Regions from separate parts of the Homo sapiens genome. Here region 1 is linked to region 2. Evidence: fine-mapped expression QTL. A gene starts in region 2. The other region holds a variant in brackets. All regions are shown on one strand. Distances are from middle to middle. Region 1 overlaps SMG1 (SMG1 nonsense mediated mRNA decay associated PI3K related kinase). Region 2 holds the start of ARL6IP1 (ARL6 interacting reticulophagy regulator 1).

What was found.
Region 1: its variant is fine-mapped to the expression of ARL6IP1 in whole blood (INTERVAL, PIP above 0.99).

Annotation. Positions count from the first base shown.
Region 1 is chr16:18,897,330-18,902,329 of GRCh38, reverse strand. All of the region lies in intron 1 of SMG1 (SMG1 nonsense mediated mRNA decay associated PI3K related kinase), which reads left to right. Among named protein-coding and RNA genes, the nearest start is that of SMG1-DT, 26 kb to the left of the region's middle. The variant G/T (reference allele first, on the strand shown) is at 2,411.
Region 2 is chr16:18,798,633-18,804,161 of GRCh38, reverse strand. ARL6IP1 (ARL6 interacting reticulophagy regulator 1) reads left to right here and starts at 2,613. Exons shown (of 6, transcript NM_015161.3): 1 at 2,613-2,731; 2 at 5,328-5,461. The coding sequence starts at 2,696. RefSeq lists enhancers at 2,070-2,309, 2,690-2,769, 2,990-3,109.

The DNA of each region.
Region 1 (5,000 bases), 98 kb before region 2:
AGGGATTCAGATTAGAATGAGCCAAGGGTAGAGGTGCATAGGGCAGAGTTCGGGGAAGTTCCAAATGTTGGAGTTTCAAATTGTCCTGTCCCTGTAGAGTTGTGAAAAATGATACCTTCCTGGTGGCACTGGTGTGCGACAATACTCATGAATTATTGCCTACCAGGGAAGCTCACTCTGTTTTTTATGTCCAAAGTTTTTACTGGGGTTCCATGGTTGCATGCCCATGTGGCTAACCTTAGTCTCCAGCCCCACTGGAGGTCAAGCTGATCCATGTGACTCAAAGCCCCCACCATAAGTCACATTATTAGACTCTGCTGTGGCCTAAAACCCCCAGATGAACAAGGACACCTTCCCCCCACCGCCACCCCCCCCTTTTTTTTTTTGGAGATAGTCTTGCTCTGTTGCCCAGGCTGGAGTGCAGTGGCATGATCTCAGCTCACTGAAACCTCAGCCTCCTGAGTAGCTGGGATTATTACAGGTGCCCGTCACCATGCCTGGCTAATTTTTGTATTTTTAGTAGAGACAGGTTTCACCATGCTGGCCAGGCTGGTCTCAAAATCCTGACCTCAAGCGATCCACCTGCCTTGGCCTCCCAAAGTGCTGGGATTACAGGTGTGAGCCACTGCTTCTGGCCAGGACCCTCTTATTAGGTATGACATTTCAAGAGTTTAGAGATTACCTTCCAGAATTCACAGGTAAAAGCCAGACCTCTCCTTGGTGAAGATACAATTCTTTACAATTTTACAATAGTTAAGTATATCTTATCAGTCTATATTGGCTGTTTAGTTGACAGACAGTTAAAAATTGGTGACAGTCCAGATGTGGTCACTCATGCTTCTAATCCTAGCATTTTGGGAGGCTGAGGTGGGAGGATTGCTTGAGTCCAGGAAATTGAGAGCAGCCTGAGCAACATAATCAGACACCTGTCTCTACAAAAAACATAAAAATAAAAAATTAGCTAAATGGGGTGGCATGCACCTGTGGTCCCAGCTGTTTGAGAGGCTGAACCCATGAGGTCGAGGCTGCAGTGAGCTATGGTCATGCCAGTGCACTCCAGCCTGGGTGACAGAGTGAGACCCTGTCTCAAAAAAGGAAACAAATCACCCATAAATGGATAATTAAGATTTGGTTATTATAGACACTTAATACTGAGGTAGTTAAACTAGTTTTACCGATAAATTATATTAATTTAATATTTCAGTATTGCAAAACTGATGCATACTCATTTATAATTTTGACATGGAATGGTTCTATTAAATTTGAACTTAAAGTTCTCTGCAAGAAGAGATTTGTATAATAAATTCCCTGAGCCTCTCAAATTAATATTTTAGCCATAGACTCATATTTAGAGCAGTGTTTTTAATGTAATGATACAAGGCCCAGGGTTATTCATAGTTTCACCCTTTCTCTTATTCCTCATTAAAGCATGTTTGAATCCAGGTAAGAGGCATTACAGGGGAAAACCTTGAATTTATTTTTGAAGGGTAAATCATTTTCAAGTGGTATTAACCATTAGTATGGAAAGCAACATATCCTATAACTGCTCTGTGACAGTGAGACTATCTTTGCTACTTTAGAGAATAAGTACATTCCTACTTCATTGGCTTTAGTGCAAATCTCATTTCCTGGTTTATATCCATTATAAATTAGATCTCACCATGAGAGCAAAATCCCTTAATAAACCTAGGTAAAAGCAATTTGAAGTAATATGATGCTTACTCCAGTGACACCACTAGGTATGGTGTTTGCATCAAGTCATTTTGGGGTGCTTTATGGAAATACTTCCTAGTAGGGAATTCCCTGACTTCACACTTTCCAGAGATGACACTCTCTCTCTTTTTCTCTCTAATACTTACAAGAATGGACTGCAAGGCTACATTTAGTCAGGCGATACCATCCCCAGCACATGGTGGATTGTTGGTGTGAGGTCTAAGGATTCTGGTCATTTGAAACGAATGGCCTCCTAGATTTGTGGCATTTTTCTGTATATTGAGAATAGGTAGCTAAAATAAGTGGTAACTATATTTGCATGTGATTTGTATGTTACAGTTAACATTTAAATTCTCTTATGTACTAAAATTTTTTTGGTTGCCACATTAAGCCTCTTTATCCTGTAAGGCACAGAGTGGCTTTCCACCTCAATTTTTGCTTTAATGTATGAACCCTAATGGGACCATAGTTCAACTAAAGGCACCTAACTCATGAATGATATTTGCTCCATGTTTGAACAACAAATGTTTTAACCCACTGTCTTCACTAATATTGTAACTACTGTCTTACAGATTGACTTGATGCAAAACATCACAAAGGCTCCATATTATACAGTATGCGATTTTTGAGGTATGAGCTTTAGAAACTTACCTCTCATGTGGCATGTACATCAGGCTTTAACTTCAGTTTGATCGTT[G/T]TGGGGAAATTTATGCATTTCTTTTTTTTTCTCTCCATGATATTTTTAGAATATTAAAGGGGCTGTAGAGGTATTTTTGGATCATTGCTAGGATTCTTAGACTTAACAGATAGATTTTCTTTTTTCACTAAATTGAGACACTAATTCTGGCAGATGATATCCCTTTCAGCTCTTCTAACTAACTAGCCTAACATTCATGCCTGCTTCTTGGAGTTCAAATCTGCAGTTTCTATTTTGTGGCTTTGATTGCCTCATTTTAAGTGCTCATTTCCGTTCTTTAACAGTTTTCTATTTATTGGACTGGGATGATCTTGTTGGTGCTAACAGCCTGACATTGACATTTTTTGAAACCTAAGTAGTCAAGATTGTATAAAAATAGAAATTTCATATAAATGCTAAAGCATTTTGTGCTTTTAGGTTCAGAATGCTTACAACCTGAGTTCTGGTTGGGGATGCTTTGATCAATTTGTATTAAAATAATTTGGCAACTAGGGAGTTTTTAGGTATTTCTGAGACAGTGGCTCTATTCCAGTTAGTTTTTTTTTGTTATATTTCTGAAAACACAAATTTTTTTTGGGAAAAAAATCTCAGTGTTCATAACTTAGGGGATTTAGAAACCTTATTTCTAACCAACGGGGAAGCGGCTCCTGGTTTTACAGTTTAGTTTGAAATCAGATGCTTCGTAGTTGGAAACACATTGTTGGTAGCAACAGATTACCCGGTTTCTTCAGTGAAGTATTTAAGTTGCTCTATATTGACTGTAAAAACTTGTCTTGATTATATTCATATACTCATGAACTGTTTGTACATTGTCTTTTAGACTGGAAACTGAGTTTATTTTGTATTATGGTCATAATAACTTTTAACATACCCTGCAAACTAAGCGTTTCTTTATAATTCATTATCTTATTTAAGCCTCACAACAACCTTGCATGTTAGGTAGGTATCATCCTCATTTTATGCAAGAGACAACCAAGGCTTGGAGATCAAGTAATTTGTGCAAAGGCACACATACTTTTCAGTGCTGGAGCTGGGATTTGAGCCCAGATCTTTTTTTAACTTGTATTCTCTGCTGCCTTATGGTACTACTGTGTCACCAGAAAGTGATACAAATATTTAACTCTTAATAGTAAAGGTAGTATAGGAGATAAGTAAACATGATGAAAACAGGAAGTGAAGATATGTTTAAATATTGGCAGACTCCATTTATCTTTGTGTTTCCGAATTAGTCAAGTGCTTATTTTATTCGCTCATCTAATAAGAGCTTACTGTGGCATACATATAAAGTTCAAACTCTGTCAGAAAAGATTATAAGCTCTCTTATGTTTCAATCTCCTTTCAGAAAGTAATCGTATGCTATGATTTATATAGATGCATGTTAAATGTGCTATTTTTAGGTACATAAGGAATGTCTTTTCATTAGTTTAAAAAAGTTATGGTCCATTGAGTTAATATTTTAATGCTTATAGACTTAGTATACTCAGAAAATATTCTCATACATTTTTCTTGAAATTCCATAGATTTTATTTTCCCTTATGTTCTAAGTACTTAGCTTTATGAATAAATGAACTCTGAATATTAGAAGATACTCCTTATGGAGCCTTAGTCATTTTAGTATGCTAGGTTTTGAATTTCATGAAGTTTCAGATTGAGATCCTTTATAAGTAATGACTTGTACCAGTTAGATATCCAAGTTTAATTGGACCTGTTGTCTGCATTCTGTATTAACAGTGATTGCAGTAAGTGCAGATCAAGGTGTCCAACTGATTGAGCTCATGCTAAGTTTTATGTTTAGTATTTTTGGAAGCAAGGAAAGACTAATAAACTCTAAACGAAATATATACAGTATACAAACACTGCTGTCACTTTTACACCATAGAGGGAGGGGCAAAGCATAGAGGAATAGCTTAGTGTCTGGCCTTGCCAGTGTCCTAAACTTTTCTAAAAGATTCAGGTTCTAAAAGGTTGAGAAAGCATTTTTAGTAAATATCATAGAAGTGATTTTCTTTTTTTTTTTTTTCTCAAAGTTGTTCCTCTCAGGAGAAAATCAGTAGGGGAAGAACTTACTTGGATTTTTCGTATGCTATAATAGATTATTTTGTTGTCTTCTTTCTTGATAGTTTATGATTGATGGCTGAAAGAGTAACACTCATGAGAAGTCTTGTAACTCAGCTCTGTTTTACTTATGAGGTAGTTGAAGCGTAGAGCAGATACTTAGATGAGGACACACTTTTACCCTTGGCTGTACCCTACTTGTTTACTAATAAGCATCAGGTATTATTCTAAACAGTACCTGAATTTTAAATAGATTATGAACTACAACTTTCTGATATCACTTTATTGCATTTCTGATACCTTTTATTTTCTTAAAATGTCTTCTTTTTTAATTTTTAAAATTCTGATTGCTACTCTTTACAATTAAGGCATCTGCAATGGGGTCTTCAATACTACAGTACCTAATCAGTACTTAGAAAATAACTTGGTAAGACATTGCCCGTCCCTGACATGCTGCCAGTGTTTTTTATTTTTATGACAGGAAAGGCTGAAATTTTTTGACTGATTAACCCTCTCCATGGGGGAGAATTTAGAA
Region 2 (5,529 bases):
TAGGTATGGGAATACATTGTTAAGTAACAAAAAATACTAAGTGGAGAAACTGCTGTTTCAGTTGCTTCTGTTTTTTTCACCTACCTTCATTTCACAAGCTGGTGTTAACAAGTCTTAAGTTGTGCATGGAAAACTTGGGTGAAAACAAGAAGCATATTCTGCAGCAAAAGCTGATTTCCCAAAAGTAGAAATGTCAGTTTTAAACCCTAATAAAATACCCTCTCTTTTGGAAGTGGCTATTACTGTGGGTCTAGCAAGATCACATACCCAGTGCTCAACATATTCACTAATTATGTGGCTGCTGATTGCTTCGATCTTTTTGACTTTTTTTTTTTTTTTTTTTTTTGAGACAGGTTTTTTGCTCTGTCACCCAAGCTTAAGTGCATAGGTGCAATCATAGCTCACTGCAGCCTCTATTTCCTGGGCTCAAGGGATCTTCCCTGCCTCCCCATTTGTATTTTTTTTTTTTTAGGGGCGTGGAGAAGAACCTGCTCCTCAGACTCCATAGCTTTAAAATCTCTCCAAATAGCGTCTCTGTCAACTGGCTGTATCCTGCCTTTACAACTTCTTTACCCCAACATTCTCCAAAGTGGCACTTTATTGAACAGTCAGCTTCCCTTGCAAAGACTTTTTTTCAAGTGCTTCTCCCTGATTCAGATACTTCACTCCCCTTTCCCCGAAAGACCCACAGCAAATTGACACCCTTCCATGAAATTCACAATGCTCCTGCCCTTGCCCAGCTCTCTTAGGGGCAGTATGTGGTCTGCAGCTATGTTCTCTCACATTTATGACTTCCTTGAACATTTAAGAACCTGGTGGTTACTTAAGGAACATTTTAAAAATAAATTTAAATTCAATGGCCGAATACAAATGACCATGAGATTGGAAGTTAAAACCTGTAAAAAAGATAAAAGGTTGGAAGTTAAAACTATAGTTAATTCACCTGAAACAAACATCTGATCCGGACATTTGGCATGATTCTGTTTGTATCAAACGATGAAAAATCGGCCGGGCGCGGTGGCTACTGCACTACAGCCTGGGCAACAGAGCCAGGCTGTGTCTCAAGAAAAAAAGAAAAAAAAAAAAAAAAAAAAAAAAAAAAGATCAAAGCACTTGTTACTGCATTTGAAATCCTGGATAGAAAAGATGTACAAGTGCCTCAACACAGTTCCTAAACTGCCTAGGAATTCTACTGCTTGTGAGAGGGTTTACATATTTTCTTAGCTTGACCTCTAATGGAAGAAAGGTCGTGTCAAGAACTATCCTTTTGGCCGGGCGCGGTAGCTCACGCCTGTAATCCCAGCACTTTGGCAGGCTAAGGCGGGCGGATATCTTGAGGTCAGGAGGTCCAGACCACCCTGGCCAAAATAGCGAAACCCCGTCTCTATTAAAATACAAAAATTAGCCGGGCGTAGTGACGGGCGTCTGTAATTCCAGCTACTCGGGAGGCTGACGCGCCAGGATCACTTGAACCCGGGAGATGGAGGTTACAGTGAGCAGAGATCGCGCCACTGCACTTCAGCCGGGGCCACGGAGCGCGAGACTCCTTCGTCTCAAACAAACAAACAAACAATTCTGGCCGGGCGCGGTGGCTCACGCCTGTAATCCTAGCACTTTGGGAGGCCGAGGCGGGCGGATCACGAGGTCAGGAGATCGAGACCATCCTAACACGGTGAAACTACGTCTCTACTAAAAATACAAAAAATTAGCCAGGCGTGTTGGCGGACGCCTGTAGTCCCAGCTACTTGGAAGGCTGAGGCAGGACAATGGCGTGAACCCGGGAGGCAGAGCTTGCAGTGAGCAAGATCGCGCCACTGCACTCCAGGCTGGGCAACATAGCGAGACTCCGTCTCAAAAAAAAAGAAAAAAAAAAAAAGAATCCTTTTGGAGAGGGAGCTTGTAGTTTAAGTAACTTAAACATCCACGTATAATAAAGCCACTTAGAAGGCGGTGCATTTTCACACGTTCTCAAACCAGGCCTGGGTTTTTCCGCGCAAGCTAAGGCCTCATTCCTACTGGGTAGGAGAGAAACATTGCAGCAAAATCCACACAAAGAGCTCTTTTCACTTGTCCTCAAAACCTCACGGGTCGCAAATCCGGGCTAAACGGCTCAGGGGCCTGGCTGGGGAACTGGGCCGAAGGTGGAACGGATCCCAGCCACCTCGGGGCCAGGAAAAGATGAAGTGTCGCAGGCCCGGCGTCCCCGCCCTCCGCCTGAGGCAACGGAGCATCTCTCTTCGAGTAGCCCATTTTCCAGAGAGTCTCCTCGGCTGCGAAAGCCAGACGAAGAGGGACCCAAAGCCACCGCAGCGGCAAGAGCCGGAGAACCACTGAGGGACAGCGCCCCCTGCAGAGGCGGTTGAACCGCTTCCCACAGCGCTGGGCGGGGCGTCGCGCAGTCCCTGGGCGCTGATTGGGCACTCCGTGTCCCCTCCCCCTCGGCCCGGCGCTGCCTCTGTCTCCTTTGACCTCGATTTCAAGCCATGCGCTGAGCTTCGGTTGGCCCGGCTTCCTTGAGGCGTAAGCTCGGTCTGTCCAATGAGGAGCGAGCGTCGCGGGGGCCGTCGGGAAGGGCGGCCGACCCATATAAGCAGCCTGCGGGGCGTTCCCTCGGGTTGTGGTTGGTGTGCGGGTTTCGGTTGGAGGACTCGTTGGGGAGGTGGCCTGCGCTTGTAGAGACTGCATCCCCGAGACGATGGCGGAGGGAGATAATCGCAGCACCAACCTGCTGGTGAGTCCTGGCTGCCTGTCCCCCGGGAGCCGAGCGAGGCCTCCAGACGTCCGTGGGCTCAAACACCGCGGCCTCGTCCCTGTCACCCGCCGCGGGCCCGGCCCTTCTCTCCCTGGGCAGGCGACGATGCCTGGCCCTCGGGCTTCTTGGGTGACTCCTGGGTGTCGAACCCTTACCTTTCCTGGGGACGGTGCGCGACGGGGCGAGGAGGGCGCGTGATTCATCACCGCGAGTAGGAGTCGAGGAGGAAGTGGGAGGCAGAGGGGCTGCGACACTAGCCTGGGGTGCGGGTGGGGGCAGAAGGCCTCCTGGGGCCTGTCCAGCGCTTTCGCGGCTCAGGCCCCAGCCGTATTCGGCTTTCCCCGTCTTTGATCTTAACCTGGATGTGCCTGCCTTCTTTTCCCCCTAAAACTTGGACAAGGGTGGAGGGTCAAAGGGCTACTGCCCAGAATTTATCTTAGAGCTGGTACAACTTAAAACGACAGGGAGGCTGCGAGCTCACCGTGGGGAACCGGGAGCGGGGTCCAGCTGAACAGACAATGGGATGTCTTGGCGTTTGTCTGGAATTTGGAAGTCTGGCGGGGGTGGGGTCACAGGACTACTGGAAACAGCTTTAGAGTAATAAGCAGGGATCCGAAGGAACTGCAGTGAGATGGTATCATAGGCGGACACATTTTTATTTGTTATGAATTTAAGCGCACCTTGTGGGCAAAAAACAAGAGAAATATCCTTGCATATTCTCAGTTGCCCTTCCCTGGTGACTGTAGGTCACATACCAGCAATGAAAAACGGAACCAAAGAATTTACTTAGGGGCTTTTGAACTTCCAAGACCCCAGACGCTGGCCAATGACGTGACTTCAGGGCAGTTTTGATTGTGCGTGATTTTATATTTGCTTTTAGAAATGCATGGTTTGTTCCTTTAAACACACGCTCCTTCTAGCATAGTTAGTTCTCAGCGTGGATCTTTTTAAGAGGATTAATTGAAGCACAGAGAAGTAGCTCAAGCCCTGTTGAAATGACAAATCCTGGGCTAGAGCTCCTGCTTCCCAACTCTCCTTCCAGCAGAGCAATATAACTCTAAGGAAAGCAACGCCTTTGGTCGTGGATTTCTTGGATGCAGATCAGTTAACCTCTGTATCTGTTTCCTCCTTGGTAAAATGGGGACAGTAATAACACCTTTTTTTAAGGGTTGTTAGGAAGATTAATTGAAGTATAAATATGAATGCTCAGCAGAGTGCCCACACATAGTAGTCTCTTTCACTAGTATTAAGCATGGAATATAAAGTCAGAAATATTGAGATCACACTAGTGCTCAGCGTGGCACAGATAGCGAGCGTCTTTGTTAAGATTAAGTGCCTTGTTCTGTCATTTGCATGATTTCCAGTGAATGACTTTTACAAAGAGACAAGGTCTCAGCCCAGGCTGGTCCCGATCTCCTGGGCTCAAGCAATCCCCCCCGACCCGCCAAGTGCTGGGTTTACAGGCGTGATCCACTGCATCCAGCCTGATAACATAGAGACACTTGAGTTTCTTATTCTAAATTTTTCTTCCTTTACCAAAACCAGCTTTAAGGGCTTTTGCCACATTAGCTCATCCTAGAGGCCCACTTTCGGCTGTTCAGAGTCAGAGAAATTTGAAGTATAATCAAAATGACATCCTGAGTGGTAAGAAACACTGTATTGAGGAGGTATATTGACCGTAAAATGCCACCTTAATTTGGTGAAAGTAGTTTTCCTTAATTGTCCAATGAATGTCAACATCTGAGTGATTCCATTACACAAAGAGCTATTTTAGAAATTGAATGCTATTCAGGGAAAGTCTTTCCTAATGGATTTAGAAGGGTTTAAATCAATAAGATGACAAAAACAACGGATCAATTCTAACCATCTGAAATAAACAAACTTAAAAAAAGTTATTTCATTTTATTAATACTCTGGGCACTGCCACGATTCCCCGCATGACTTTGAGAAAGTAAACCATTTTGAGCTCACTTTCTTTAATTGTAAATTGAGTCTAATTATCCCTACCTTGTGGCTCTCTGTAAGGATTAAGTTACATCATGTATATAAAGAATAGCCCAGTGCTTGGACTAGAAAAGTGACCATTAAAGGATATTTAGGCTGGGCCTGGTGGCTCACACCTGTAATCCCAGCACTTTGGGAAGACGAGGTGAGTGGATCACTTGAGGTCCAGAGTTTGAGACCAGCCTGGCCAACATGGTGAAACCCTGTCTCTACAAAAAATTAGTCGGGCGTGGTGGCGGGCGCCTATAGTCCCAACTACTCAGGAGTATGAGGTAGGAGAATCGCTTGAACCCAGGAGGCGGAGGCTGCAGTGAGCCGAGATCTCCCCACTGCACTCCAGCCTGGGTGACAGAGCGAGACTCCGTCTCAAAAAAAAAAACACAAAAAACAAAAAAACCCATTGTATTTTCATCTTTGAAATTGCAGTTTTTCAGAAACCAACTAGTTTAAAATTGGCAATTTGGTTAAGAGGTTATTTTTTGTATTTGGAGCTTTAAAATAATTGAAGTCTATGAACCACAAAAATGTTGAGAGTGGTAAAATGATCACTTTAAATGTCGGTGGTATTTAGGCTGCAGAGACTGCAAGTCTGGAAGAACAGCTGCAAGGATGGGGAGAAGTGATGCTGATGGCTGATAAAGTCCTCCGATGGGAAAGAGCCTGGTTTCCACCTGCCATCATGGGTGTGGTTTCTTTGGTGTTTCTGTAAGTGAGCTATTAGATTACTATGGGTTGTGCTTCTTATTAATAAAGACTTTTTAATATATAGCTTC